2 separate regions of the Homo sapiens genome follow, and region 1 is linked to region 2. Evidence: fine-mapped expression QTL. A gene starts in region 2. The other region holds a variant in brackets. All regions are shown on one strand. Distances are between the middles of the regions.

Region 1 (15,801 bases), 55 kb after region 2:
TGATTAAAACTATATAACATTCTGGAAAAGGCAAAACTATGGAGTTGGTAAAAGGATCTGTGGTTGCCAAGAGTTAGTGGGGAGGGAGGAAGGAATAAGTGGAGCACAGAAGATTTTTAGAGCAATGAAACTATTCTGCATACTATGATGGTGGGTACAAGTCATTTATGCACTTGTCCAAACCCATAGACCATGTAACACCAAGAGTGAACCACAGTGTAAGCCATGGACTTTGGAAGATAATGATGTGTCAATGTAGGTTCATTGATTGTAACTAATGAACTGTTTTTATGGGGAATGTTGATAGTGGAGGAGCCTATGCATGTGTTGGGTAGGGGGATATGGAAACTCTCCATATCTTCCATTCGGTTTTGCTGAGAACCTAAACTACTATTTTAAATAGTCTATAAAGTGCAAGAAAGAAAGAGACAGAGAGAGAGGAGAAAGAGAAGGAAAGAAAGAAGTAAAAGAAAGAAAGAAAGAAAGAAGAAAAAAGAAAAAAGAAAAAGAGAAACTTGCTTTCTCAACTGACAGTTGCAACCTCTACATTTGAAAATACTGACATGAACAAAATGAATCATCTATCTCATGGAAGGGAGGAATTTTCTCCAAAGAAAGGCAAAGCTTTAAATAAGAAATGAGAGTATGATGGAAGCTATCTTCCCCTCAGCTTTAAAAATCCTAATAATGTATACCTAAGTATATCTGATTGTGTCCTATGCAATGGAACATTTTTGTATAGTATCATGATGTCAGCTAAGTTGTGACGTCATTTTGAGACCAACCATTCAGAGTTTTTAAAAAAGAAATTATAAATTTTAGGCTGGGCACAGTGGCTCATGCTTGTAATCCCAACACTGGGAGGCCAAGGTGGGCAGATCACCTGAGGTTAGGAGTTTGAGACCAGCCTGACCAACATGGTGAAACCCCGTCTCTACCAAGAATACAAAATTAGCCGGGCATGTTGGGGCATGCCTGTAATCCCAGGCTACTCAGGAAGCTGAGAGAGGAGAATTGCTTGAACCCAGGAAGCAGAGGTTGCAGTGAGCTGAGATCACACTATTGCCCTCCAGCCTGGGCAACAAGAGCAAAACTCCGTCTCAAAAAAAAAAAAAAGAAAGAAAGAAAGAAAGAAAGAAAGAAATTATATATTTTAAATGTAGATACTATGAGCTCTTTAAAAGCCAAAGTTTATTGTAAGTTCCAAACTAGGAATGAAAAAGTCACTGAAACACTCTGCAGGTTTTAAATTCTAACGAGGTAAATATTGATCAATATAACTCAGATTAAAAGCTTTTTAGGAACACCTCAACCCCCCTCTTAAGAGAAATGTGTTCCAAAACCAAAATGTAAGAAAACCACTCTGGATTATCCTTACCAGTGATAGTTCATTTCTTGCTATAACCTGCATAAGGAGCTATTTTTATGAAATTCTAAGAACCTACAACTTCTGGGTCTAAACTTTGGTGCTTCCAGCTCAGGAAGCTGGTTTTCCATGACCTGAGAGACTTTGACCAAAGTTAACTTTTTATCTCTTTGGCTTTTTTTCTCTTTTGCTTGTTTTAAATTTTTCTTCTATACTGTTTTTTTCTGTTCCTCATTTTTTATTATTTTCTTACTTTCTTTTTTCTCACTGCCCTTTTTCATTTTTATTTTTCTCATTTTTATTATTCAGTCTTTTTCTCATTTTTCTTTTCTTAATTTCTCTCATTTTTTTGTTTAGTTATTGTTAATTTCTGGTACTTTTTATTTTTGTTTGGTGTTGTGTTTTGATTCCTCTCAATGACCAGTTCATTGGGTAGACTCTGGGCCTGAGTTTCTGTTGATGCGATTTGGACCAAGCTTCTCACCAGCTTTTCCCAATTGTAAGCTGACTTTGTGACAACTTGCCTATAAGCCCAACATGCTGCAGTGCCTCTCAGCCATCTCTATTCAGGAAGAGACCCATAATGGCAACGACTGGCTCCTTAGTCGACTGGCTCCATCAGTGGGGGTAACTTCACCAAGGTGAAATTGGTGTGGCACATTTTCACTGGGAAAGAGGTGGCTGCAAAGACCATCAGTAAGACTCAGCAGAACTCCCCCAGCCTCCTGTGACTGTTCCAGAAAAACCAAATCAAGAAGGCCTTGAATCAACCCACCATAGTGAAATTATCTGAAGTGATTGACATTAAGAAAATCCTCTACAGTATTGTGGAGTATGTTGGTGGAGGAGGGGGTGTTCCATTACCTGGTGGCTGATGGCAGCATGAAAGAGAAAAAAGCACAAGGCGAATTTTGCCATGAAGTGCCTATTGTGCAGTGTTACCACCAGAGGTGTATGGTCCTTAGAGACCTGTGGGCAGAACATCTGCACAGCTGACATTGTAGGCTAGCTTCACAACAAATTCACCTTTGGCAACAAGCTAGCTGCCCTCTGTGGCAGCCCTCTTTATATTGCCCCACAGCTCTTCCAGGGCCCAAAGTACAACAGCTGCTAGTGAATGAGTAAAGACTGGCAGTTATCCTCTATCGGCTGCTCAGTGTGCCCCTGCTGCCTTGTGATAGACAGAACTTCAAGGAGTTGCCAGAGTAGATATTGAGAAGAATATCTGGTATTTCTTGCTATATGCCCATGGAGTGTGAAAACCTGCTCAAGAAATTTCTTGTCCTCAACTCTCGCAGGAGAGGCACTTTAGAGGAAATCATGAAGCATCCGTGGATGAACATGGACCACGAGGAGGAACTGAAATCTAAACTCTTACATTGACCACTTCCTGCTTTTAAGAATCCCTGACAGACTGAGATAATGCCCATGGCTTATACGTGCGAAGAGATTCAGAGCTTGTTAATGGGTCAGAATTATGCCAAAGCAATGACCATCCATCTGCTCCTGGGCTACGAGAGATCTGAGATGGAGCACTACCCCATTATCCTCAAGCCTCGGCTTCAGCTCATCCCACCAACAGCTGTACTCCTTCCTCACTTGCAAGGTATAGCATGAGATCTCTGCCACCTCAAAGCGGCAGAGTTTCAATGAGCCTGCCATTCCCACCTTTAATTCTCACTCTAAGAATAGCAAAGACATGGAAGCAGCCTAGATGCTCATCAGTGGTGAATAGGTTAAATAAAATGTGCTACATATACACTAGAATACTATGCAGCCGCAAAAAATGAAATCATGTCCTTTACAGCAACATGGATACAGCTGGAGGCCATTATACTAGGCAAATTAATGCAGGAACAGAAGACCAAGTATCACATGTTGTCACTTGTAAGTGAGAGCTAAGCATTGGGTACACATGGACATAAAGATGGGTATAGTAGACAGGTACTAGACGGGAAAGGGCTGAAAAAAAATATATATATTATATATTTATATGTATAATGTTTATATATATAGTAGACATATATTAGAGGCAAAAGGGCTGAAAGCCATCTATTGGGTACTGTGCTCACTACCTGGACAACAGGATCATTCATAGCCCAGACCTCAGCATCACACAATATACCGGTGTAACACGCCTGCACATGTACTCCTGAATCTAAAATAAAAGTTGAATTTATTTAAAAAGTCCCCTTATGACCCCTTCTGTGGGGCACTGAACCACTTGTGATCTGCTGCTACCCAATCCATGAATCACTGAATATTCACATGAACTCATTAAATTTTTTCAAAAATGTAGTCAGAGTGCCACAAGAATTCAGTGGTCCGGGCAGAACCAGGAGTCAGAGTGGAAGGCCAGTGGCTCTGTGAAAGTGCCTGCTGGTCACCTAATCTGCCTAGAGGTGAAGACCACCTCCTTACAGCATAGCCCTCCAGTATGGCCCTGTGGCCTCCCTCTCTACCCACAATGCTGGCAGCATTGGTGGAGCCCAAGTTGAAACTGATTTCCTCCAGGGTCTCTCCTCCAGATGAAAATCCCTTCACTCTGGGCAGTTCGGAAAGGTGCACAACCAGCAAAATATGCTTGAGGATGAGACCCCCAGCCTCTTCTGATAACAGCCAGACCCTGCAGTGGGGCACTGGGAGGTTCCTCACCATTGATCTGCAGATATGTATGTTTCCAGTTGGCCAGAAACATAACAGCATAAAGCTGAAAGCAGTGCATATCAGACATAAAAAGATGGGCAGCAGAGGCAGGAGAGGCAGTGATAAAATCAAGAAAGAATGTCAGGAGTTCAAGCTGTGCTCCCTGGTTTTACCTGGAGAATGAAGACCATGAGCTCCGTGTAGCCCACCGAGATGCCAGAGATCAGCCAGGTGCCTGGTCAAGAGAGCTTTGTGCAGTGAAGAATGGAGGTGTCCAAACTCTTTCTGTGGGGTTCAAATTAAGATGATATTCAGCACCTTTGAGGCCTTCAAAAGCATTATCTCCAGAATAACTGGTAAGCCTGGGGAACTGCCAGTATTCATCAGAGAGACAAGAGGAGAGACCTCTGGCCCTAGTCATAGGCCTGGCACTCTGCCCCACCTGGTGAAACTTTAGAGACTGGACTGCTTCGAGAACATGGTTCTGTAAATATAAAACACACACACACCCACACACACACACACACACACACACACACAATTTAAAACAACATATGCTAATTATTGCATTTAAATGTTAAGGAAAACCACTCTGCTTTATTGCTATAGCTGTCACAAGACACTTACCTACAGCTTTGCAACGGGGAGGCTCAAAACCCTTCAAAATTCTCTTGTGACTCAACTGCAAACCACAAAAGAAAATCACTTTCCTCAAGGGAAACCAAAGCCCAGTGAGGCCATCCTAGGAATAGAACAAAAATTAATGAATTGTAAAGGAGACTGCATTTGGAAGCTGTTGTGTTGGTGTTTCTGGCTGGGAAAATAAGGCCTGAGGGTACTATCTGTACAATATATATTTTGTGAAACAACCACTTCAGTCTTTGTAAAACTGAAACAAATGAGCAAAAACGAATCCAAACCAAAACAAAAAGCAAACACAAAAAAGATCTGAGTCTTGTAGATGGAACCTCCACTCCCTGGAAAATCAGCCTGATCTCCCCATCTTTTTTATCATTGGTTACCCTGCTCAAGGATCCATGGTTTCCTCTTGGTCCTTACTCGTATATAAATTATGAAAATTTATGCTTCATATTTATGGTATACATCGACTGTTTTCATTTATTCCCTTCAGCAATTTTCATAGTTGCAGCTAACATTTTTATAACTGTTTAAAATTTTCAGCCTTTCTAATGCATTATCTTATTTAAATTGGACTTTGACATTTTTTTCTTTCTTTGCAATCCATATAATCACTGTGGTGTACTGTAGTATCCTTATTAATAATTCTTCCAGCACCTGTCTTCAAAGACTTGCCTCAATAGCAGGAACTGTCACTTCTGCTGAACTTTACAAACCTAATCTTTAGTCTTTCCCTGGATCTCTCTGCACTCCAAATTTCTCAGCCTCTGAAATATTAAGGTCTAATACAGCAATAGCTGAACAACAACTTCTGTCTATCCCCATCTTTCAAGCTTTATTTACGCCAAATCTGCTCTTAAACTTCCTTTATCTTTTCAGTACTGTGTCCCCTTCTTCTCTCACAGTCCATAGCTACTGTCCTGGGGTCTTCTTTCTTCCTGTTCTAATTTAGACCCAAGATGAATTAACTCATTTTGTAGTTTTTGCCATCAGCCTTACCTCCTTCTTCTTCCTACCGCTCTACCATTACACTCACAAATGCTCTCAGTTTTCTTTAAATTCAGCTTTCTGTTTTATCCTCTCCTATAGTCAAGTTATAGATTGGTGTCTCTATAAATTTAGATTCAGTCTCTGCTTGGACTTCAATGTTACTTGATGTTTCTTTATTATACCGTGGTCACCTCCCTCTCCTCTTCACTACAGCAGCTGTAACAAACTTCATTAATTTTCTTAAGTGGAGCTGCAGCCCCAATTTGTTCTCTCTCAGCACATCTCCTTCCTAGTACATACCTACGGAATACTGAGGTTATCAGGCCTCCATGAGGTCCTGAGGTTATCAGCCCTCTGCTCCAAAGCTCCATACTGAAATAAAAATCTTTCTTCTTTTTTCTTTACACTCACTTTCTCTACTTCTTTTTCTATCTCAGAGGATTAGGCAATTTTGCCTGTTCTCTCTGGCTTATTCCTCCTCCTGTGTTCCAGATAGTATCTCTTCATTCTACTCTAAGAAGTAGATCTCTAAGATTGAAACCTATATATGCATTAACATATGAAACATACAGTTCTTTTTCTTTCATAAATAAACTTTCTCTGACACTTATTGCCCACTCTGCCTTCCTTCACTGTGAACTGTAAATAGGTTGTCCACACTCTTTTTCTACCACCCGTTTCCTTATTCTTTATCTCTCTGCTCTTCACTTTTCCATAATACTCTTGCTACTGTTTCACCAGTGACTTCATAACCACCAATCCGAAGGGAACTTGCCAGTCCTCGTCTTCTTCGCTCTTTCTGTTTTATCTAGTTGACACTTCTTTCTTGTTGAAACGTTCTCTACAGGACTTTCTCTGGATTCTTTTCCTAGCCTAAGATTATTTTTTGCACTCCTCTGCATGAACTCCTTTTGTCCACAGTTATTAAATGTTTGTGTGTTCCCATTCTCCATTGTCAGTGTTCCTTTCCTCTTATTGAACATTCTCCCTCAGTGAATTAAAAATCATTGGCAATGTAGAAATGATATTTGGCTGGAACATAAAATGCTCATTCAATGACCCATAGTCACTCATGCCTAGATTAAATCCCAGTGCTTTTCAAGGTCATGTGACATGAGAAATCTTTGGTAAATAAAACTGGCTTAAAAACTGTTAGTAAAATACAATTAGAATGTCTTCAGAATTGTAGGTATTACATATAATTCACACATTTTTGCCTGGATCTATTGGACAGACAAATTTATACTGTCTCTTCTACATGTTTTTAAGGCCAAAAAATGGTTTCTTCTGTGATATATTTGATACTTGCTTAATTTGTCTGCGAGCTTATTTCTTTGGTTTTGAGTCTTTAGATTCTAGGGTTTAGACACTTGGTCACAGTGAGGGCTAGGGCACAGCACTTGAACCCCATCCTACCGGACCCAGCTGTGCCTCATGGCCATGCAGGGAGGAGTTGGATTCATTAGACATTGTCTGGAAAGGTCTTTCCTCCTTGAAAGAAGTTGGATTCACCAGGAATTGTCTTGAAAGGTCCTGGGCACTGTGTCTGGTATATAACAATTAAAATTGCTAACTTCTAAGGTTTTTCCCTGAAAATTAGGGTTACTAAGAGTTAACATTGTAATTAGTATATAAAATTAAAACTACCAGATGTGAGAAACATTTCTGTATGAAAAATGTATAAGGAAAGTTCAATGTGTTTTGGGTGGGGAAGGTTATAACAAAGGTGTGAGAATGTGGTTTTGTTAAAGAAAAGGTAAATTAATTTTTGTCTAGTTCAGAGGCCATATAAATGTTATTTAAAATTGAAGGGAAAAAATAATAGATAAAACTAAATGGATATAGAAAGTTGGGGAAAGAAAAAGAATGAAAAAATTTTTGTTATAAAAGTTTTATACAAATCTTATGTGGTCAAAACTGATTGAGATTAAATGGAACTATTTATAGTATTTTATTAAATTAGCTCTAACATTAACAATGCTGATGCAAAGATATATTTTAGTTTTCTCTTTTGAATATGATTTTCGTGTAGTATTGGCAAGAGATAGTATAATGGAAGATTTTTGTTCACCTTTTGAATAAACTGCAAAAAATAAGAAGTAGCAGGGAGAGTTTGACTCATGCTGTCTTTACTAGGTACTTTGATTGGAAAACTGAACCTCCTCTCTATCAAAGAGTGAAGTGTTTTGCTTTTGAAATCTTTTAATTATGAATTTGGCTAAATGAATAACTTATTTACAGTGACCTGTGATCCTATTTTGATCAAATATTTTAACACTTTCTTTTTTTAATATAAAGTGTTTTAAACCTTTGATATTTGACAAACTTCCAATACCAAATTTTAAATTCTAAAATTAAGTCTTTTTGACCTCAAACTGACTTTTGGATATTCCATAAAGAACCCCTGGAAGTCCAAGAGAGACATATGAGGCTTATGTGATGTGTAAAAATCATACAGAAATATTGTCAAATAAGAAATTGTGCTTAACTCTTCTTTGAGTTATAATTGTATAAATGTGTTATTAATGTGTTCCAAAATTGTATGAAATTCCTAAAATTCTGATATATCTTGGTACATGATATCAGTTATGATTATAATTATGTTAAATTGCAGTATGCCACAAAAATAACCAAATTTCCTTGTCAATTGCTTCTTTAACCATGGCTATTCTGTATCTTTTGTCATCCTCAGACAATGATTGTTTTACTTTGAGTCTTCTCAAAAAGTAGTTTACAACTGGCTACAGTACAAAATGTGCTTATTTTTAATTGGTTACAGTCCAAAATGTACTTATTTTTCAAAGAAATTCATGGAAAGGACATTGCCAAATATTCTCAGAAATACAGGTTTCTGACAACTTTGAAGGTCGTACCATTAGACTAGGTAAAAACTTCCAGAAGTCTAATGAAAAAACTAATGAGTTCATGAAGATTGCTAACCCAACATCAAGCAGAACAAACGTTAGTCATGTAAGACTTAACTGATAGAGAACTGAATGATTTTTCTATGATTTTTAAAATTTGAAATATAGCTGATGGTTTTTGTTTTGTTTTCTAGAGTCAAGAAAACTCTTTTTTTCTTTTGAACTATTTATAGCTTACAGTAATTGGTAAAGTATACTTTTGTGAGCAAAGTGGAAACATTTACCATTTTCTCTACCTGGTGTCACTAGAATTTAGAAACTATTTGTGAGTAGTCTTATTTTATGGCAACATAGTAATTTGCATAAATTAAATAAGAATCTGTTTTTTCCCAAAATAATACACAATTGTAGACACTATTTTACCAAGGCTGTGGATGGAATGACATATTTTCAGATATTACTACTTTGAGGAATTGAGGTTGACTTTCTAGAGCTGATTAAAAAAAAAAAAAAAACCCTTGTAAATACTGGCCTGGTAGCTTGTCTATATGGTTCTCTTACAAGGTTCCTGACTTTGCAGCAAGTAGAATGTCACTTTTTGGCAGCTTCAGGAACCTCAAGATATTTTGGAATCCTTGAGAAAAGGGGAATGTACCCAGTTCATACAGGTATTGGGTACAGTCTCATAGCAAATCCATGGTTTGGCTTCCCAGCCTTGGGAGGTTTTTAAAAATCGAATGTGAGATTCCTTATGTAAAAGTTCCAGCAAAGCCAACTTTAAAAAAGGTCATATAGCCAATCACTGTTCTTACTGCACTTTGTGCAAATAATTAGGCCAATTACAATAGGAGTAAAACTTATGTTGCAAATAAATTGGTCTTACTATGTCTTATCTTTGGTAGACCTAGGGGACTACAGAGAGAAACATATGTTTCAGAAGAAAACTATAGTATGCCTGTTATTGGATTTTAGCCTTGTCCATTGTTTTTAAGTTTTTATTATTTGCCTACAATTTGGACTGCATTCTGAATTATTTTCTGGCTACAAGTCTTTAAGGTTTTCAAATTTTTCTCTCATTTTTCTAAATTGAAATCACTAGAAATTAAAAACATGCTTTTTTTTTTAAAGCTCTGCAAACTAAAACTAGATAACATGATATAAACTTTCAGGGAAATCACTAGAGAAACTTACATACAAACAGTCTTCATGCCTATTGATGTCTGGACTCTGCCGAACGTTCATTTGAATACCTGATTCGAACTACAATCCAGAAAAATCTGTCAGATTGCCATCTAAAGATGCTTCAGAGATGCTAGAAAAATTAGTTTATAGACTACTCCAGACATTAATCTTTGTTTTTTTTATGTTTCTACAGAAATGCCTCTTACTAAAGATCTGTTTGTCTGCACTGTATATGGAGGTCAAGCCCATCTGCCATGCCGCCTCCTGGAATGGGACCCTGCTGTTTAACTCAACTGAACTTTTCTCAGGACTAAGAGGCTGATTCGAGAAGATATGAGATAACATATTTAAATTTGTTCTTTTCTGCTTATCCTAACTTGTTTTTCTCCTCCTTTGCCTGCCTCCTAAATAGCAACCTTTAACTCACATCTTTCCAAAGTTATCAACCTTGCCTTTAATAAGTGAAACTTTCTTAAAGAAAAACTTCCAAAGGGGAACAGAAGGAAACTAAAATATTTCCTCTCCAAATATATTTTCTTGACATATTTCAAGAAAACTATTCAGAAAAGCTGGAAATTCAAGAATAGCTGAAAAGCTGCCTTTTGTGGGGGGAGATTCGCATCAGTAGAGAAAACCTGCATTGATGCAGCCAGGCCCTCTCTGAGACCTTCCTTTGTCTGGATATAGGAAAGATTAACTGAGAGTCTGACACCTTTAAAAGTCTGAAAGAAACATTCACCTTGTGTTCTTGGTGTGGGCTGAGCCCTGCAAGGTTTCATCTGCATAGAAAGACCAGCTTTGCAAGCCCGGGCTCCTCTTCTCCCCCTCCCATAAGCTGTCTTGCCACCGTATCCTATTTTGCCATGATAAAAGCCCCAATTCTTTCTGTAACCTCAAGATGGAATATATAAGATTTGCTACCCCACTGGGGGTTGAGGTAATCACTCTATGGTTCTCTGTGCTCATTAATAAATTTGTATGCCATTTCTCCTATTTATCCATCTTTGCTCAGTTGATTTTCAGTGAACTTTCAGAGAGTAAAGGGGAAGTCTTCCCTTGGCTTCAACAAGGTTATGTCATGAAAAATTTCTAGCCAGGCACGGTGGCTTATGCCAGCACTTTGGGAGGCAGAGGTGGGTGGATCACCAGAGGTCAGGAGTTTGAGACCAGCCTTGCTAACATGGTGAAACCCCGTCTCTACTAAAAAATGCCTGTAATCCCAGCTACTCAGGAGGCTGAGGCAGGAGAATCGCTTGAACCTGGGAGGCAGAGGTTGCAGTCAGCCAAGATCATGCCATTGCACTCCAGCCAGGGCAACAAAAGCGAGACTCCATCTCAAAAAAAAAAAAAAGAAAAGAAAAGAAAAATTTATATTCATCTCAGAATTTTACAAGTTTAGCTAAAGCCTTAATTTTGAGTCCCATGGTTGGTAAGTATCTCCGTTTTTAAAAAGAAGTGTTAGTTATATTTCCACAGGACTTGCTAAAAGGTGGTCTAGGCAATGAAACTGAAGATGCGGGATGAATGGGAAGAATATTTTGGAAACAGAACCTTAGGACTTGATGGACAATTAGGTGACAGGAATGAGAAAGCAGAAATACCGGATAATTAGAGTAAAAAAATAATGTACTAAGTAAGATAATGAATTAATTTATATGTTTATTGAATCCCATATAAAATTATGTAACTTGTTAGATTTCAGGGGAGATAATGGCCTCTCTATACCTGAGATCTAGGATACTGACACCATTTACA[T/A]CATCACTGTAAGATAAATGAATTCAACATCAACATTTTGATCTATTCACTTATAATAAGGCAAAGGAAAGAAAACATCATGATTTTGATTATTAAAAGCCAGTATATGATGATTTGTATCTTTAGTGTATTCTAAATTTCATATATTTTACTGGGAATGTTAAAAATATTTATGAATTAGGCCAGGCATGGTGGCTCACGCCTGTAATCCCAGCACTTTGGGAGGCCGAGGTGGGTGGGTCATGAGGTCAGGAGATCGAGACCATCCTGGCTAACACAGTGAAACCCCATCTCTACTAAAAATACAAAAAAAAAAAAAATTAGCCGGGCGTGGTGGTGGGCACCTGTAGTCCCAGCTACTCGGGAGGCTGAGGCAGGAGAATGGCATGAACCCGGGAGGTGGAGCTTGCAGTGAGCCGAGATGGCGCCATTGCACTCTAGCCTGGGTGACTGAGCCAGACTCTGTCTCAAAAAAAAAAAAAAAAAATTATGAATTATATTTATTGTTGGAAGATATCACCATCTTTCTCAAGCATGTGGCAAACCAGTTGGATACTGAGAAACAATGTGGTTAACTGACTAAGATCATGAACTCTGGAGTATTTTGTCCTGGGTATGAATTTTGCATTCCCATTTATTATGAGAATTTGGGCAAGTGTTTAATCTCTTTGTGGATTAATTCCCTCATCTGTAAAGTGGGGATAACAGTATTTTCCTTTTTTAGTGAGAATTATATTAGCTAATATGAAGCCCTTAGTACAATGCCTGACACTTAGCACACTGTACTCAGTTTATGTTATAATTATTATTTTGTATTTCAGGATTATCATAGAATCCGATGGGAAAAAAACAAAAAACAGTTCTAATTTTTAGAATTCAAATATTATTTTGAATAAGTCTTCAGGAGATAGATTGTAAGTTGCTTGTGGTGATCCTAAAACTGAGCTTATGAATCAATCTCCAAAATCTATCACTTATCTTTTTTTTTTTTTTTGAGACACGGTCTCACTCTGTTGTCCAGGCTGAAGTGCAGTGGTGCAGTCTTGGCTCACTGCAGCCTTAACCTCCCAGGATAAAGTGATCCTTCCACCTCAGCCTCCCAAGTAGCTGGGACTACAGGCGTGCACCACCACACCAAGCTAATTTTTTGTTTATTTTTTTGGAGAGACGAGGTCTCACTATGTTGCCCAGGCTGATCTCAAACTCCTGAGCTTCAGGGATATACCTGCCTCAGGCTCTGTAAGTGCCAGAAGTACAAGTGTGAGCCAGCAACTTATATTTATTGAACAAATGTATTAGTGTTATGCTTTGCTACAGTCACAGTTCATGTTAGTCAATTTCTAGAAGGGTGATGCATTTCTGAATGATATGTTGAACACTTTTAATTTTTGTTGACTACTTCCTTTCCCCTCCCATAAGAATAACTGTATTCCCATGTAACTGAAGTGCATTTACACACCCCTGCCAGGAGTATACCTCTTCCATTACGTGAGAAAGAGCTGTGCAGATGTTTATGTGGCATTTGAATGATATGCTCTGCATTTATCCATGCATTCTGCTAAAAATATTGTTATTTATTTTTCATATCACCTTTTCCCCATTAGATAGCAATGTTCCTCAAGGTAAGTAATCATATCCATTTTATTTTATTCTTCCACTTGCTCACAGCATAGATATGTATACTTTTGGGTGTGCTTTGCATGAAAAAGCTGTGTACACCTTGGGGACTGACTTACTGAAATAACTTCTCCAGTATGACTCTTGAAAGAACTAGGTCAATAACCCATAGAGTTATATAATTTTTTTTTTTTTTTTAGCTTGAGGAGACCTTAGAGATCACTTTTTCCAGATCCTTCATTTTACAAATTAGGAAATGAGCCAGGATTACAACTCATCCTCTCAACTGTCAAGCCCTGTGCTCTTTCAGCCTCATCAACTGCCTCTTGGATTGAATTGTTTATTTTCCAGGTGATTTCTGCATATTATGATGTGTGTGTGTGTGTATGTCAGGGTGTGTGCATGTGTGTTTGAGTGTATGGTTTTTAGAACTTTATAACCTTGTCCAATTACAGAAACATATTTTATGTAGAAGAAAGAGGAGATGACAAAGGATAAATTAAAGGGAGAATTTTCTCTTCCTCTTGTCTTTATTAATGTTATTATCATTAAGAAACAAAATGGTACACAGAAGACAAGGGAACATAAAATTATCATATGAAACCTGTCTTTTGGAATAATCTATTTCCAGACTCCACTTAGAGATCATTATCTTGGCTACCGAGTCGGTTGTGGGGTGCTGAGACAACGTGTGTGTCTGTAATGTGCATTCAATGTATTTAGGAGAGAGACTTTGCACGTGTCTCTAATGAAAGTGAAAGGGGGCAGGGTGGGGGCCTCTGGGGAGGAGACCCACAGTGAAGGGGAGGAAAACGGGCTTCTCGCAGAGGAGGCAGGTGGAAAGAGGGAGGGGTCTGTGCGCCCGCAGAGTCGCCAGGCGCCCTGCGAGTTGTCTCCGCTGGGAGGGGCGAGGCTGTCACTTGCCAGGGCGCGAGGAGCCTCAGCGCGGCTTGGAGAACTTGGCCCCGCGCAGCGTCTGGTCACTCGCTCTCCTCTGGGGACTGCAGAGAAGCAGGACCTCGGGCCATGGGTGAGTGCGCGGGCGGGCGCGTACACCTCGCCCAAAGGCTCGGCCTCGGGAATGGGCATTATAGAAAGAAAATGAATGTTCCTCGGCCTCAGACTGCGTCCTTCCCAGCTCTGTTCCCCCCGCGCCTGGCGTCCCCCGCCCCCCGCCCTCTTGTCTCCGGACTTTTTTTTCTGGGAGAGAGGCGATGGCGATGGGGTGGCACCTGGAGGCGAGGGAGGGTGCCCGACTGTTTACAGTGGGTCGGGAGGGTGGGGGGCTGCGCTTGGGCGCTGATCCTCTGCGCCGGCCCCAGGACCCAAGCCTGGGGGTCCGGTCTACCGTGCTGGGGGCGGTATTTGGGAAATAAAGAAAGACTAAGAGACCCAGGATCCGAATAGCGAGGCGATTACAGGGAGATCTCTGTCCTCCCGAGTTCCCACGTTTTCATGTTCTCTTTGGGGAGCAAGTTGAAACGGGGCACGAGAAATGGAAACTTCCTAAAACTTCCACTTTGTACAGGTTTGAGCAGAGGAAGGTGCTGGTGCAGGGCCAGACTGGGGACAATTTCTAGTCCCTTTCCAAACGAAGTGCCCATTTGCACAAAAGGTTTGAGGTTGAGGCTGAAGGCTGATTCTTCCTAAATTCCACCTGGGTAAACAGCGTGATTAAAAGGGCGTCCACACTGGCTCGGGTCACTGGACGGTGGAGTTCGGCGCAGTTCAGCTTCGCTCAAGTTTCCAGGCAGGGTCCGCTTATTCGGTGCTTAGCGGAGGCAGCTTGGAATAGCTCCAGGAATGTGACTGCGTGTGGCGGAGGGGAGGAAGAACTGGGTGTGAAATAGCCGATTCACACCCAGCACTAGGACGCAGGGTCCCACGAGTCACCTCGAAGAGCGAGGGAGAAGCTGGGGAGGAGAAAGCACTCGCCATCCCTGGACTGGCGTATCCACAGGCGCAGGGGAGATGCTGCTCTTCCGCGGTTGCCGACTGCGTTCAGCCCGCAGCCCGAGTTACTCTTCCAACCCCAGCCCGCTCACTTCTTCCAGCCAAGTCCACTGGGCGCCCCTCCCCCTTGCTTCTCCCTTGTCCTTTGTTGTGAGGGATTTCTCCAAGAGTAAAGGAGGCCTTGGGGACTGACGTGCTCGGGTTGAAATTCCTGTATTCCCACAGGCTCAAGGGTTAGGGGATGCTTTGACTACTAATTTCTGGAGTTTATAGACAGTAGCCAACTTGGAAGAAAGGAAAAAAGAGAAAGCTGAGGACATTTTTGCCTATGAATGTTAGCTGTGATCAAGACTTTCATAGTCTCTTCTTGCTTGACCCCTGGAAGTGTCTTAGAAGGACCCATTTTTAGGGCCTTTGTATAAACAGTGTTGGAAATGGTCTTAAGAAGGACTGTCTTTAAATGTTTTCTGAAAAGGAAGGAGTATTTTCAGGTTAAAAAAGAAAGATAAAACATTTTCCCAAGTGTGGCAGAGAGTATTTCAGGCTCTTTTTTTTATTTGGTTGTTAAGTGTTGTGTTCCATTGGAAAGACAGGTCCGGAATATTTTAAATTTTTCTCCTAAACCCAACACTTGCTGTTCTACTTGACCACTTGAGCCTATAAACTCTTGTTTCTATGCTCACACAGGAGAAAAGCTGTCAGAAATGGAAAGTCAAAATAATTGACTTGATGTAGTCTATTCATTAGCTGTATTAAAAGCATTAAAATGCCATTTGGATCCAACATAAT
Region 2 (16,050 bases):
ATCAAAGAAGTAATCCACATCTACTTCAACAAGCTCATTCATATACTTTCATTGTGACCATTCTGAGAGAGGTATCCAAAGAATAATAGAAAAGGGAAAGGCCGGGTGTGGTGGCTCACGCCTGTAATTCCAACACTTTGAGAGGCCAAGGTGGGCCGAGGTCAGGAGTTTGAGACCAGCCTGACCAACATGGTGAAACCCCGTCTCTACTAAAAATAAAAAAGTTAGCTGGGCATAATGGCCTGCGCCTGTAATCCCAGCTACTCAGGAGGCTGAGGCAGGAGAATTGCTTGAATCCGGGAGCTGGAGGTTGCAGTGAGCCTAGATCGTGTCACTGCACTCCAGCCTGGGCGACAGAGTGAGACTCTGTCTCAAAAAAAAAAGAGAAAAGAAAAAAGAAAAGGGAGAAATCACATATTTTCAATTATAAACTAAGAATTTTTGAAGTAAATATTCCATTGCGAGAACACTATGGAAGGAAATAAGTAAATATTTGTCATAAAAAGATACAAGATTATTTCTTCAACAGGGTGTGGCAAAAAGTATACCCCTATTTTTATAAATAGAATCACTGCTCATTAAAAAAAAAAAGACTTGAGGAACTCTGCCATAAATTGCTATGTAATCCCCAGGACCCTCGCTCCCCTTCTAATTAACCTGGTTTGTGAGTTGGGTTTTGTATGTGAGTTTTTGAAGCAGGATGAGCCTTCATGCTTATCTGTCTATCAAACTTAGGATTCCCCATTGGGCAGAAAGTCACTTAATGCTGGCATATTCATGTTCTGGGAAAAGGTGTTAAAAATTATTTTGGCAAGTCAGTTTGGGAAAACCAGCAAAGAAAATCAAATGGATGCTTAGAAGCTTGAATATTAAAAAACAAAAACAAAAACAAAAACAGGGCCAGTCACAGAGGCTCATGCATCCCAGGACTTTGGCAGGCCAAGTTGGGTGGATCGCTTGAGCCCAGGAGTTCCAGATCAGCCTGGGCAACATAGTGAGCTGTCTTCTCTACGAAAAGTAAAAAAAAAAAAAATTAGCCAAGAGTGGTGGTGCGTGCCTGTAGTCCCAGCTGCTCAGAAGGCTGCTGTGGGGGGATTGATTGAGCCTGGGAGTTCAAGGCTGCAGTGAGCCATGATCACACCACTGCACTCCAGCAGGAGACCCTGTCTCAGAAGAAAAAAAGAAAAGAAAAAAGAAGTGGAAAAAAAGGGAAAAAAGGATCTACATAAACTAACTAAACTCGAAACTTTCTTCAATATATGCATTCAATATATTGACAGAGGCCTGAAATAAGTCTGATTTTAATTTGCTAAGTAAAGGGCTGTATTACCTAAGGTAGGGCCCAGGCACAGATCTGATAGGTTGGTAATCTACATATTAGTCTGCCTAAGTCAAATATTACGCTCTGAGCCAACATAAAATTCCCCCTAAACATGAGCTAATGAATTAATTTTGAAGGTGAGACATTATGCCCAAAAAGCTACTATTGATATATAAATGTTAACGAAACGTATCCACTATTATATTTTCAGGAATAAATTCATTTATTTAGTAGTTCATGGTACTCCCAAGTAAAGCTTCAGAAGTAGAACATAAGCCAGCTTTTCCCTTATTAATTTTGAGAACATAATTTTTATGTGTTTAGTGTCCTCATTAACAGAATAACGGTGTTAGAGTAACTGGTCTTAAGGATCCTTCTATCATAAATTCCAAAATGACCCCTTCAAACCTGTTTACCTTAAAAATAAAATGTTGCATAACTCTTTTCATTAAAAGTCATCCATAATGTTTTATCTTAAAGAATCAAACTTAATTAAATGTTAGCTATTTCTTATTAACCAACTATTCATTTTTTTGAGACTCCATGTGGAGCTGTTTGTATTGTAATGAAGGGTTTTTTTAATAGCATGTTAAACACGAGTGCTTTGTGTAATAAAAATTATTTTCTACTTTCCGATTTGAAAGTAAGTTTTCTGTGTGCGTGATATGAAATTGAACTTACTACACATCATTGTAAATGAGTCTGCCTGGGACACTGGTACATGCTTACAACTAAAAAAAATGGGAAGAATCTGGAAGAAGAAAACAATAAACCTAAGCATAAGAAAAATTGTTTAAGGACCTCAATCTTGAGTTCTCCATCTCAGAACATTTGAATGTACAAAACAAGTATTGACTGTTATAACATCTTCACTGACACATGGAAATTTATTTCTTACACTTTTGCTACAATTTATCCGAACATGACAATTATCAATCATCCTTATCATAGCAAATAACATTGTTAAATTACCTCCTGTATTATCTTAATTATAGATTTATATTACTGTCTATTTCTACAGTACATTTTTTAAATTAGAATGTAGAATTACAGAATTTTATAAGACAGCTTACTGAACAATACTTTGTAAGTACATTTAACATAATAAAAAGTAAGACTTTTATCAATATATATATATAAATTATTTTCCTCAAGTAGCTGATAATGTGACATCTGGAAGGCAGGTGCCAGCTGTGGCTCCAATATCAAGTTCTTTTTTTTTCTTACAAAATCTAGCCTATTTGAAATGTTTGACTAGTCACTGAAATTATACCTGTCTAGTCACTGAAATCAGATGAAAACAACCTGAACTCTGCCTTCTAATGTGACAGCCCATGCTTTAAGCATGGAAACTTTTCAAATCTTTCTAATTAATCGTGATGGGAATTTTTCTTTTACTATACAAAGCTGATCATTTTATATTATTTCTACCAATTTTTATTACCAAAGTTGCAAGTCCTTCGTGAACATTTTAAGTAAACTCAAATAAGAAAAATGTTTTTCTCTAGGTTTTGTTTCCTTATAGAGTAGATTCTTTGGGAGAATTTCTAAAATTCTCTTCAGGTATCCGTATCTAATTTCTTGCTCACAAATTTCAAGGAATAGTTTTATCAACAATGAAAGAATAATCACGATACTATTTTAACAGGATAAAGCACAGTCTTGGGTATCAAAAAGTACCAACCAAATCTTAAGTTTCATATGTTTCTGATACAAAAGAAAAGGAGCATGAATTAATAAAAAATCCCTTCCAATATCCTCCTTTTTTTCTTTTTCTTTTCTTTAATTTTTTTGACGTTGTCTTGCTCTGTCGCCCAGGCTGGCATGCAGTGGCGCAATCTTGGCTCACTGCAACCTCCGGGCCTCCTGGGTTCAAGAGATTCTCATGCCTCAGCCTCCCAAGTAGCTGGGATTACAGACGTGCACCACCACGCCCAGCTAATTTTTGTATTATTAGTACACATGGGGTTTCACCATGTTGGCCAGACTGGTCTCAAACTCCTCACCTCAGGTGATCCGCCTGCCTCAGCCTCCCAAAGTGCCGGGATTACAGGTATGAGCCACCGCACGCAGCCTATCCTCATATGATTTCTATAAATTAATATAATTTCGATGAAATCTCTGTTCCTGAAGACGTACTGGAAGATACATGACTTCACTTTAATATTTCCATCTGTTCAATGGAAGAGGTATACAAAATGTAAAATGAGATAATTCAGCAGTGGTCAAAAGTAGCAATGATGCTTCCATATACATAATTATCATGAATAGCTGGGTAAACTCTTAAGTATTCAGTATTACAATTCAGTAATCTGATAAAGCGTTACCTTTCTTGCATATGTTAGATTTCAAAGAAATTCTGGAATATAGGATGAAAATGTGAATCCTTCAAAACTGTCAGAATTACATTTTAGTCGTCATTAAAGTATTTAGGCAACAAAATCAGGTACTCTGGAGAATTTACACATTTCATTAATAGTGACAACCTAATCATTCATGTTGGACTTCTAGTATCCATCAGGGTAAAACCATAAAACAAACAAACAGAAACCTGTTCTTAAACTTCTCCAAGTAATTAAAAAACTGCCACTGGCCCTGTCCCTCCTTTCCCAGACTAAAGGATACAAGATAGAGTCTGTAGAAAACAGCAACAACAAAAGCAATCTAGCCCTAGTCTCCCCTCTACTGGGAGCATTGTTTTTCTGGCCTAAATTAATTTATGGCTTTCTAATCTATGGAATTATTTATGTGACTAATGGGTAACTTAAAAATATTTAGAACACCACTATTTATCATTAGAAATAAGAAGAATAAAGAATGTTAAAACTTTCAAGTAAGCATATTTAACGTCTTCTTCAGATGTCCACAGTTTTTTAAGCAGTTCTATTAATATCAACACAAGAGAAAGTCAGAACAATGTAAACAATAACATTCAACTAGTTATTTTTACATAATTACGTTTGCAGAACTCAAGAGCTTTACTTTCCGTATATGCCCTTTGAAATAAGTCATTGCTTTAAAACTTCCCAGGAACTCTAAAGCTACCATTTGTAACATTAATCTCCAAACAATCCAGTAAAGGATGTTTCCCAAAATATTAACGAATTGACAACTTTTCAAAAGCACTTAATAACTATATTTAATTTTAGATGATAGGAGGGGAAAGGTTCTCAGACCACCTATCTCAGACGTCTGCCTTCAAAACAGTTAGATATAACTATATCCATTTTCTTGAACACTTAGGCCAGTGAGGCAGAATCTCAAAAGGATGTAAGAGTGCTTTCTCCACAGAGTTTGTTTCACCACCCGCCCAGCATCAGCTCCTGGCAAGCAGGGTAATGATAAGGCATAAATCTACAAATAAATTAATGCTTAAACTCTTGTGGAGTTCAAATTTATAAATTCTCATAAATTCATTGTCATTTATTTTCTAATTTTTACAACGCAGAAATGTTATTAGAGTGCTAAGAACGGCAACTATAATCTCACATTGTTGGGCTTTGGCCGTTTCGTATCCTTTTACAACGAACTTGTGTTTTTTTGATAGTTTTCTCTAAAGGGTATTTATGAAAGATTCAGAAATGTAGTATCTCTCTTCAAACCCTTGTTAAATATATATAGTATATATGTATATATTAATATGCAAAATAATTTATTTTTGATGCATGGTCGGACTTTTCATTACTTTTCATTCGAATCAATTGCTTTTAATTAATATATTTAAAAAGTCTCCTTAAATTGTTTGTTCCTTTCAATCTTTGCAAGCAAAACAAGTCTGATTTTGGAGAGGGGAGGACAGCAAAGATTCTATTTTACGATCTACTTAATAAATAGTATACCTGCCTTATATCCAATACCGTCTTTTTTCTGGAACGCATTTCCTTTTTACTCAAACCTTTCTTAGTACAACCCTACTAATAAGTCCATCTTCAAAGGGGTAAATGATCTATACAGAAGTGTCTGGCCGGCGGAGGGATGAGAACAGCAACCTAGGCTCTAGACATATACTTAATAGCCATAAAAATAAAACAATGTCCCTCGAAATGTCCACAGTTTACACTGCAATGGTAGTTTAGATACATAAATATTCGCTGCTTGCTGTGCCTTGTAAGAATCAGGTGTGTGGCTCTAAAACTCAGTTGATTATCTCATCAGGCACCATGGTGTGCAAAGCCCTGCAGGACGTACATTACCCTGGTCCGCGATCACAGGGAGGTCAGAGCCCCTCTCGCATGACGCCGCGACAGTTCCAGCATCACCCACATCAATCCTGAGCTTGCCTTGGTATCTCTGCGGCCCCACCGGCTTCTTACCTGGAGGAGGAGGCGGCTGCAGCGGCGGACAGCGGAAGGTGCTGAAGCCGGCGGGCGCAGCTGCGAGGCGAGCACCACCAACGCGCGGACCCTCCCCGCCCTCCCCGCCTGCTCGCTCAGGGCGCCCGGGGGCGGGGCGGCCGGGCCCGCGGGCTCCGAGGGGCGGGAAGCGTGCTCCGCAAGCCCCAGCGCGGAGCCACGATGGAAGGCGCCGCGAGCCCGATCTCCAGGGTCTGCCCCAGAGGCCCACGTGACAGCTACACAGGTCGCTGATTGGAGCGCCCGAGAGGGGGAGGCGGAAGTGGCTCGTGACCCTTGGAGACTAGGCTGAGGGAGAAGTGGTTACCTGGCAACAGAGAAAGTGTGTTGAAGGCGCAGCTCCTCCGTACTGGAGCGAGGCTTTGGGCAGAGGGTTTGCACTGAGGCTGAAAGTGGAGGAAAACGGTGAACCATCAGCGTTCTCACCACCTAACACATTTTATAGCGAGTCTGCACTTTCTAGGAAAATGAGTCAAATATACAGTAAGTCAGTCATCCTGTCTCTTTCTTGAGGGACCTGGAGGAGGGACTTGAACCAGTGCCTGGAATGTGAGTGCAGAATGCTGTCTCGCCTGCACTTCATTATTGTCTGATTGGGCCCAAGAAGGTCTGTGGGAGAGCTCAATGGATAAGATTATTTGTTTATATTAATCGAGTTGTATGTGGTTAATGTATCTGCCTTCACAAAACTGACATTTTCCCTGTGGGATCTGGTTGAATGGAAGTGCTGGATGTTGTCATTCCTACTGGATTCTTCACATCTCTGAAATATCTTCACTACCTGTGGCCTTTATCCAACACACTAGAGAGAATAAGCCTCGACGTACTCGAAACAAAGTGTATTTAATGACATCTATCGAGAATTAATTATACTCCACTCTAAATAGTTAATAAATGAATGGTCGACCTCAACCAGAGAAAGTCCCTGGGCCTAATTCTTACCTTCCTATGCAGTAGATTTTAATGCTCCTTTTTTCCAAAATATTCTCTGCAGAGACGAGTACCTACCACAGCACTCAATATTCTATATTGTAAATTAAAATTAACTTAAATGTTGGATTTCCATATAAAGAATAAACTTGTTAAAGCTAAAATCAGTTCTTACAACTCCGTCCCCTATATTCTAACAAAGTATCTGATGAATAGCAGGTCTTCAATTAATTCTTGATGGATAGATGGATAAAGAAAGAAAGAAATTAGCACATAATCTACCAGAGAAAGTATAAGGGCAATAACTAAATATAACTCAATGTGTTAAGTACTAAAATAGGGTTACATAAAAGTGCTATGAGATGATTTCAGATGAGGGAGGCAGAACTTTTTCTTCCAAGGTATTCAGAGAAGCTTTCAATATGATTAGTATTTGAGCAGGGACTTATAAATAGGTAGAATTTCACCTGATAAAAAGGGGAAAGTGTATACTATGCAGCAGGAGCAGCATTGCCAAAAGCATAAAGTGGGAAAAAATAAACGATTGATGTAAATAAATTTGATGTTTTTGCCTTCTCCGGAGTTGGGGATGTGAATCCAAAGATAAGAAGGAAGATGGAAATTGGCAAAAGACTGTACTAGAAAAATAAGAAAACTTGATTGGGAAAGATGCAGAATTCTATATATGGGTTAGGCTTTAACCTCTAAACCAAAGGAAGAGATTGAAGTTTATAAAATCAGTGCTTTTTCATCAAGAAAGACACCTTGGAAACATTGGAGATACATGGGATGCAGGAAGATGAAGAACATGGTCTGTTAGGAGAAAAATTCAGTAGTTCATGGGAAAAGATGCTGATGACCTGAGTTAAGACAATGAAAATAAGAATAGCGAAGAGGGAAAATCACAAGAAACATTTCTGTGAAAACAGACTATAGTTTTCATTTATGACTGATATTTGCTAGGTATAGTGCTGAATAGTCAATGGTGTACATGAAGAGAAAATGCTGAAGATACAACGTCTAGCTTAGTCCATCGGTTGGACGGAAAAAATCTTTTATGTTTATTTTGCTCATAATGGCTCCAGCTCTCCAGTTAAGAAACAAAAAACCGGCCGGGCGCGGTGTTTCACTCCCGTAATCCCAGCACTTTGGAAGGCCGAGGTGGGCGGATCACCTGAAGTCAGGAGTTTGACGGCAGCGTGGTGGTGAAACCCCGTTCCTACTAAAATACAAGATGAGCTGGGCGTGGTGGCGGGCACCTGTACTTCCAGGTCCTCGGCAGGCTGAGGCAGGAGAATGGCGTGAACCCAGAAGGCGGAGATTGCGCCACTGCACTTTAGCCTGGGTGACAAGAGTGAGACTCCGTCTCAAAAAAAAAAAAGAAAAAAAAGAAAAAGGAAAAAGAAAGAAACATAAAATTGAATGAGACAACTGAAATTATCTAGTTGTGCACTCATAATTTAAAGATGAAGGTGTTTAAATCTCCAGTCATATTAGCAGCAGATTTTGATAGAGTGATCCCGGTCTCCCAGTTCAGGACTCTTATTCCTTTACCAGAATTTAGTTCATTCCTTTTGAACAGATTTAAATAATCACAACTATAGTTAGATTAGATCTAGAGGAACAATATACCTAATTTATAAAACAAAGATCTCTTTACTCTGATTTTTTATTCTTTTATTCAACCAGTATTTAATGTCATATACTCACCTCACAAAGAAAAAATTGTCAGTCACTTAGGCTGACTGACATTTTCAGGGCAATCATTAGTTCTTAGCACTGAGTACCCGGAGTTCTTCATGATTAAATTTAAAAGCAGAGCGATTAGGGAAGCCAAATGACTCCAGTCAAATTCATCTTCAAGGATAGATAGACATGTTCTATGAGTACAATGGCTTTGAAAAGGAAGTTCAATGCAATTTAATGTGGCAAATGCCCTTTTAATATGTATTCTGGATGAGAAATCAACAAGAAAAAAACTTCTTAAACTAAAATTTTAGAAAAATTTAGCCAAAAAGACTTTAGATTCACCTAATTGAAAAGCCCTCTCACACTTTTTTTTAATGTAAAAATGGTAAGAGAGCAGAAACAAGTATAACAGAAAAAAAAACTTAAACTAATGTGCAGTAAATAGTGAACTAAATACTTAAAAATGTACTTTATGTAAAAACACTTAAAAATTGAAATAGTTTTAAATAGATATATAATCTATTGCCACAATATTGATGATTAAGGTAGATATATTTAAATATATCAAAATATTATTATTTCTATTAAGAAATATATTAGAGGTTATTACTCTTTGGTCTTCTTGAGGTATAAAAATGGCTTAAATTAACCAATAATTTTTGCAGAAAATTGAGATTTTTTCTCTAGATCAATATTGATAGAATTCTTTTATTTTTTTAATAATTGCAGAAAATTTGATATTTTTTCTCTAGATCAATATTGATAGAATTCTTTATTTATTATTATTATTATTATTTTGAGACAGAGTGTCACTCTGTTGCCCAGGCTAGAGTGTAGTGGCATGTTCTTGGCTCATCACAACCTCTGCCTCCAGGGTTCAAGTGATTCTCCTGTCTTAGCCTCCTGAGTAGCTAGGATTACAGGCATGTGCCACCACGTCCAGCTAATTTTTTGTATTTTTAGTAGAGACAGGGTTTCACTATGCTGGCCAGGCTGGTCTCGAAATCCTGACCTCAAGCAATCTGCCCGCCTCAGCCTCTGAAAGTGTTGGGATTACAGGCATGAGCCACTGTGCCCAGAGGATCAATATTGAGAGAATTCTTAAAATTGTTTTTAAATTGTAAAATATTTAAACAGGAAAGTACATACAATAATGCAATAAATATCTATAGTTAATAAATTTTGTTTTTGTCATATTTGCGTTGTCTTTGAAAAAAAAAATTGGCTGGATGTGGTGGCTCACACCTGTAATCCCAGCAATTTGGGAGGCCAAGGTGGGCTGATCACGAGGTCAAGAGATTGAGACCATCCTGGCCAACATGGTGAAACCCCGTCTCTACTAAAAATACAAAAAAATTAGCTGGGCGTGGTGGTGAGCTCCTGTAGTCCCAGCTACTCGGGAAGCTGATGCAGGAGAATCATTTGAACCCGGGAGGTGGAGGTTGCAGGGAGCCGAGATTGTGCCACTGCACTCCACTCTGGGCGACAGAGCAAAACTCTGTCTCAAAAAAAAAAAAAAAAAAAATTATAGGTAGTGAAGTTCTCCTTTTTTCTCTTGTCATTTGATTACTCTCTCATTTTAACCAGATGTAGCTAATCTAACAGATAAATATACTTTCTAAATTTGCTTTATTTTCTGTCATTTATTTTAAAATTTTATAATATTGGTACATATAAGTATATATATTTATATGATATATATCTTATATTAGGAATATAAAATATAGCATCATCATTATTTACCTATTGATGAACATATAAGTGTGTGAACTTTTCTCTATTGCAAAAAGTAGTGAAACTCTTTTCCTGCTCCATATCATCAACATCAGAGTTTTATACTTTTTTCAATCTAATGAATGTATAGTAATATCTCTACATGATTTAAATTTGTGCTTTCTGAAATTGTTGGAATGACACATCTTTTTAAGTTTATAAATTGTTCACTACCTTTTTTTTCTATATTTAACTTTTCCATATTGATTTTTTAGGTTTTAAAATATTCAGGGTGTTTATGTGTTAGATATACCCATTGCAAATATCAGTCCAGATCTTCAGTTGTAAAAATTCTCCATCATTATTTGAATATTTATTCTATTTTTCACTTCTAAAATTTTAATTGAACCTATATGAGAGTTGTTAATTCTACCCATAAATGTATTTATCACTTGTCTTTTCATAGTTTTAATCTCTTTGTCCCTTTGTGCTGAATTCTGTATGACTCTCAGTACCATATTTCAATTTATGAATTTTTTTTCTTCAAATAGTTTCAAAGTGATGATCTTGGCTCCTGCCTAGCCTCATATGAGACATTTAGGTTCCATTTTTCAGCTTAGGCTAATTCTCATCTACTCTTACCTATTTCAGATTTGGGATCCAAAGATTTATGGTTTTAGCTTTACACTCATTATATTTAAGCCACAAATGTGCTTATTGAATTTGTGACTGAGACTCAACAACTTTAATATTCAAATTTTCAAAAACAAAATTCCCCAACCTCCCTGAATGTTAATTTATTCCCGGGAAAATGTTTTTATATCTTTACATAAATTTTGCATATTAATTGAGAGGGATCCTCTTTGAAATTCCCTTAGAATCCACTGACTCTGTAAAAAATCCCTACTCTGTTAGTTTCTGTGACACTGTTCTCTTTGTACAACTAAAAATGCCTTGCCTTTGACAGTATATCCATTTTCACAAACTGAGTTTCAGACTAATGCACCCTTTTGATTTTCTCTTTCACTTACCTTTTTTTTAGTTCAATTGATTTTATGTATAGTAATAAAAAGCATGGTGTTTTCACTCAGTCATCTGCTGAAGCCAGACTGCACTGGTTTGAGAGAAAACTGTTAACATTTTTTAGGAATTTTGCTATTCATTATTAAACACATCTATTCTTAAAATTAAATTATATAAATGTATAATTAAATTAATTAAATTAAAAATCGAAGTAATAAATACTCAAAATGTATCACTTCTTAATTATTTACTAGTGTTTTATCTATGCTTTTGAGGTTATTTATGTTTATTGTAACTGTATGGTACAAATACTGTATAATAATGTACATTTCTTCCTAACTTGTTCAGTGATGTCACATTGATAGCTTGAAATTGGCCATAGTGGATGTATTTACTATCATGGGTAATCAATGACTATCTAGGCCAGTGGCATTAGGGTAAGAAGAAGTTACCAAGACAGTTGTAGATAAAAAGGCAGATTTATTGGAGAAGGTATGAAAATACTTCGCAAACGTGCAATGGGCAGACCAGCAATAGAGGAGCTGACTTCAAGGAGTCAAAATTTGCTGGGGATTTTATACAATGGTGCTTGTGCTGTGTACTGAGAAGGGCTTTGTGCAGTATTTGTAATATCAAGGTTGCAGTGAGCTAACTTGCATTTTTCCAGCAGCTGAGGGTCTAGTGATAGCTGGGCACAGAAAGGTTGTGAGTTGTTTGTGCAGGAGGGCTATGAGTCCTGAATCATGAAGAAAGGTAGGCTTATAACTTATCTGCTTTCTCTTTCCTTTCCCTTGGTCCCACCAGCCTGACTCCTTTTCCCTTATTAGGACTCCATATTTACACCTTGAAATTCAGCAAATGTGAGAAATCAGGGTATGATTCGTCGTGTTGTTAACTGTCTCGACCTACCCTGCTTCATAAAGTAGCTACTAGCAAAACATGGCTATTTAAATTTAAAGTAATTAAAATGAAATAACATTAAAAATTCAGCTCTTCAATGATAGTACTTAATAGTTCAAGTACTCAATAGTCTCATGTAGCTAAGTGGTTACTGTATCAAACAGAGCAGGTAAAGAACATTTTCATTATACCAGAAAGTTTTATTGGTAAATGCTGGTTTACTTCAGGAGTCAGAAAACTTTTTCTGTTAGGAGCCAGATACTCAATATTTTGGACTTTAGAGCTATATGGTCTCTGTCACAACTACTCAAATTTGTTATGACAGTGTGAAAGCTGTCATAGCCAATACATAAATGAATGGATGTGGCTGTGTTCCAAAAAAACTTTATTTACAAAAACAGGAGGCAAGCTGTATTCAACTTAAGGCTATAATAGTTCGGCAGTCTCTGGTATAAACTTAAGAAAATGATGGAGAAACTATTAATAATGCAATTTAACTTTAAAGTTTGTTGTGTCTATTACTGTTACATTAGAAATCGCACAAAAACTGAGGAATTATTCTTTTAATATTCAAAAACTGTTATTCAATCCTGCTAATAAGTTGTTTAGGCCAATGGTGAATGAGTGAAGTTTCTATATATGCCTTCATTGTTTCTTTGTTGTCTTACTCATTAACATAAAAAAATCAACATTAATGTCAATTGCAACCATAATTTCAATACAAATACAAGAGTTTGGCAAATATTAATGAAAGTATTCTGTGAAAATCACTTTGCTATATGGAATATAAAATAAAGAAGATAATGTATTATATTATCATACATAAATTGTGTGGGACATATTTTATATCATTAAAATTTATAATAAATTTGTTTACATACATATACGCATACATTGTTTTTTTTAGAGAGCAGGTTGTTAAACGGTTACTACCACATCATAAGAAAGCATCTGAATTTATCTAAAAGTGTGACACAGGAATGCTTATGAATCTTGGTGTTTCAAAGCCATCTGTCTATGTATTCATCTACTCTCTCTCTCTGCCCCCACCCCAGTCTCTCTGTCATGACCTTCGGAATGTACTACTCATTTCCAGCTGTGGGGATCATAAAGCATAGATGGTCTCAGCTGCTGTGATTTGAATCCACCATCATCACATTTATGCCAAAACCACACTTCACTGTATACAAATTTTATCTCAATAGTTATTTTTTGACCTTCACAAAGAACTAATTTTCCCCAGTTAGTATTCAAATATCCCAATAGTATACAATTAGTGCATCAGACTGAAAAAAAATTATGAAACTACTTTTTTTAAAAACATGAAAAACGCTATTTGAACATATATTAGTATTAAATATTGGGAGTTAATAGAAATAATGGCAAAATTAATTACTCTTGTTTATTTGGACAGCCACCTGAGCTTATATCATGAATTTTATCAGACTGATATTAAATAATAATTTATTTTTAGCATGTATATCCCATATGGAAATATTTTTTGGTATAAGGAACATACAACATTTATTTGAGATAGACATTCTGACTCCCTAAATCTAAAACTCTCCATTATGGGCATTCGATTCATATATGTGTGTGTATGTATATACTACTGTCTGTGCATTTAAATAAAATTTCTCAAAGCCTTATAAATAGAATGGAAGAAGTACATACAATAGACTGAAACCATGCAAAAGACTAAGCCAAACTAAAAATAAAGCAAAGTTCAGATATCTGGTTCTAGAAAATATGACTTAGGCCATTTTGCTATGAAACAAGGCAATATGTTGCTATGAACGGGAGTCCCACATGAAGCAATTTGCTGAAGATATTTCAGAAGACTTTGTGCCCCAAGACACTGGTTTTTATTTCTTTGTTTTAAGGATGCTTGCCAGCACTAATTCTTCATCCAAACTTTTAATCTTTTAGTGACACCAGGTTGAAGGGTAGTTTTCACCTGTTTTAAAAAGTGTAAGATCATAAACAATGATAGGTAAAAACCTAGCCTTCATAAAATCCTGTTCAAAGAGTGAGCAAATTTTCATAGCTTTTTAGAAGCAGTTGTAAATCTCAGAGGATTTCCTTTGTGTTATTGTATTCCCAATTCATAGCCATCTTGCCAAAAAGAAAAAAAAAAAAAAAGAAAAACCCCTAAATATATATTTTATGAAATATTGAAGCAGTAAGTGTTGCATGGTGTTTTTCTGGATGGCAAGCAATGGATTTTATAACCTAGAATTTTTTCAAGGAGCAGAACAGGTTAAATTAATAAAATTATGTTATATTTTCTTACATGTGACCTTCCACATTACCCTGTACCTATGCCATCCTGACCCCACCACTATATTTTACTTTTGTTTTTCTTAGGGGAATGAAAGAGAAATAAGAAAGCAGCTCACCCAAATTTGCTTCTGGAGAAATTAATATTGAAATGTAAAAAAAAATTCTCAAAAGGACAGTGTGGCCTCAGTACCTAAGTAAATAAGCAAGTAATTCAATAAATGTCTAATATTTGCCACTCAGATAAATTGCTTTGTTAAATGAATGTTAAAAATGTTAACCTTCTGTTTGATAAATTAATGCTAAGGAGATGATTATATTTAGGTTTTCAAACCTCTACATTAAATAATAATTTATTTTAAAGTTGAAATATAGAGGGAGATCATGAGGAAAGATCCTTAGGGATTAATTTATAAGTATTCTCTAACTCTTTCATTGCTAGAGCATTTTAGTATGGCCGTTTTAGTTACATAAAGGGACTTGTCTCTCCAGTTCATGAAAACATGGTTAAATTTTGAGAGATTTCTTTTTCAATCAATATGTCATTTCCCCAGTTAGAAGCATTTTACACATATATGAGGGAATCAAGCAGATGTTATAAGCAGTTCAAATGAAAATTCCAAACCTCACAAATCTGTATGTCATGTAAATGAATATTTGTATTTATTTATTTATTTATTTATTTATTTATTTATTTATTTATTGAGATGGAGTCTCACTCTGTCGCCCAGGCCGCAGTGCAGTGGCGCAATCTTGGCTCACTGCAACCTCCGCCTCTCGGGTTCAAGGGATTCTCCTGCCTCCGCCTCCCGTGTAGGTGGGACTACAGGCACCCGCCACCACGCCCCGCCAATTTTTTTTGTATTTTGAATGGAGAGGGGGTTTCACCGTGTTAGCCACGATGGTCTCGATCTCCTGACCTCATGATCCGCCTGCCTCGGCCTCCCAAAGTGCTGCGATTACAGGCGTGAGCCACCGCTCCTGGCCATAAATGAATATTTAAATGAATTTCAAATGAAGGCAAAAACTGTTTTGGGAGAAGGGGATAAGTCAGTTAAGTCTTTACCACACAGGAAAAATTTTATGTTATCTATCAGATCTACAATTTTAAAAAGGCAAAACAGCTAAAGATCATGTACAGGGCTAGAATCACACAGCAGAAGGGTGCGCCATAGTCAGTGCATAGAATTCCATGTCTTTTCAACACGTTATGTTGGCGATGTTTGGGTAGCTAGCTCTGAATATAGAGCATACTCATTGAGTCGGCAAATATGTAGACTTTAGATTTAATTGACTTGATTTTTAACCAACATCACATATAGGTTTACTACATGTAGGGAAATAAAAAGATAATCTTAGGGTATAAGGAGACTGACATGGTTTTCAAGGCTTGGCTTAAAATAGCACATTGGCATGATAATAAACTACAATCATCTTACAGTCTCATAGTTATCAAGATATTAAAAGAGGATTTTAGGGCTGGCTGGCACTGTGGCTCACACCTGTAATCCCAGCACTTTGGGAGGCTGAGGAAGGCAGATAACGAGGTCAGGAGTTCGAGACCATCCTGGCCAACATGGTGAAACCTCGTCTCTACTAAAAATACAAAAAGTTAGCCGGGCATGGTGGCAGGTGCCTGTAATTCCAGCTACTCGGGAGGCTGAGGCAGGAGAATCGCTTGAACTCTGGAGCTGGAGCTTGCAGTGAGATTGCATCACTGCACTCCAGCCTGGGTGACAGCAACACTCCATCTCAAAAAAAAAAAAAAAGAGGATTTTAGAGACAGGTTCTTGCTCTGTCACCCAGGTTGGAGTGCAGTGATGCAGTCATAGCTCACTGTAG

What was found. PIP is the estimated chance that this variant, and not a neighbour inherited with it, causes the effect.
Region 1: its variant is the best candidate, but not a certain one, in a credible set for the expression of WDR17 in whole blood (TOPMed, PIP 0.84).

The regions. Positions count from the first base shown.
Region 1 is chr4:176,000,597-176,016,397 of GRCh38, reverse strand. It overlaps a transcript of GPM6A not described here and the pseudogene MARK2P4. Among named protein-coding and RNA genes, the nearest start is that of WDR17, 57 kb to the left of the region's middle. The variant T/A (reference allele first, on the strand shown) is at 11,443.
Region 2 is chr4:176,055,664-176,071,713 of GRCh38, reverse strand. WDR17 (WD repeat domain 17) reads right to left here and starts at 5,873. Exons shown (of 29, transcript NM_181265.4): 1 at 5,635-5,873. RefSeq lists a silencer at 5,618-5,997.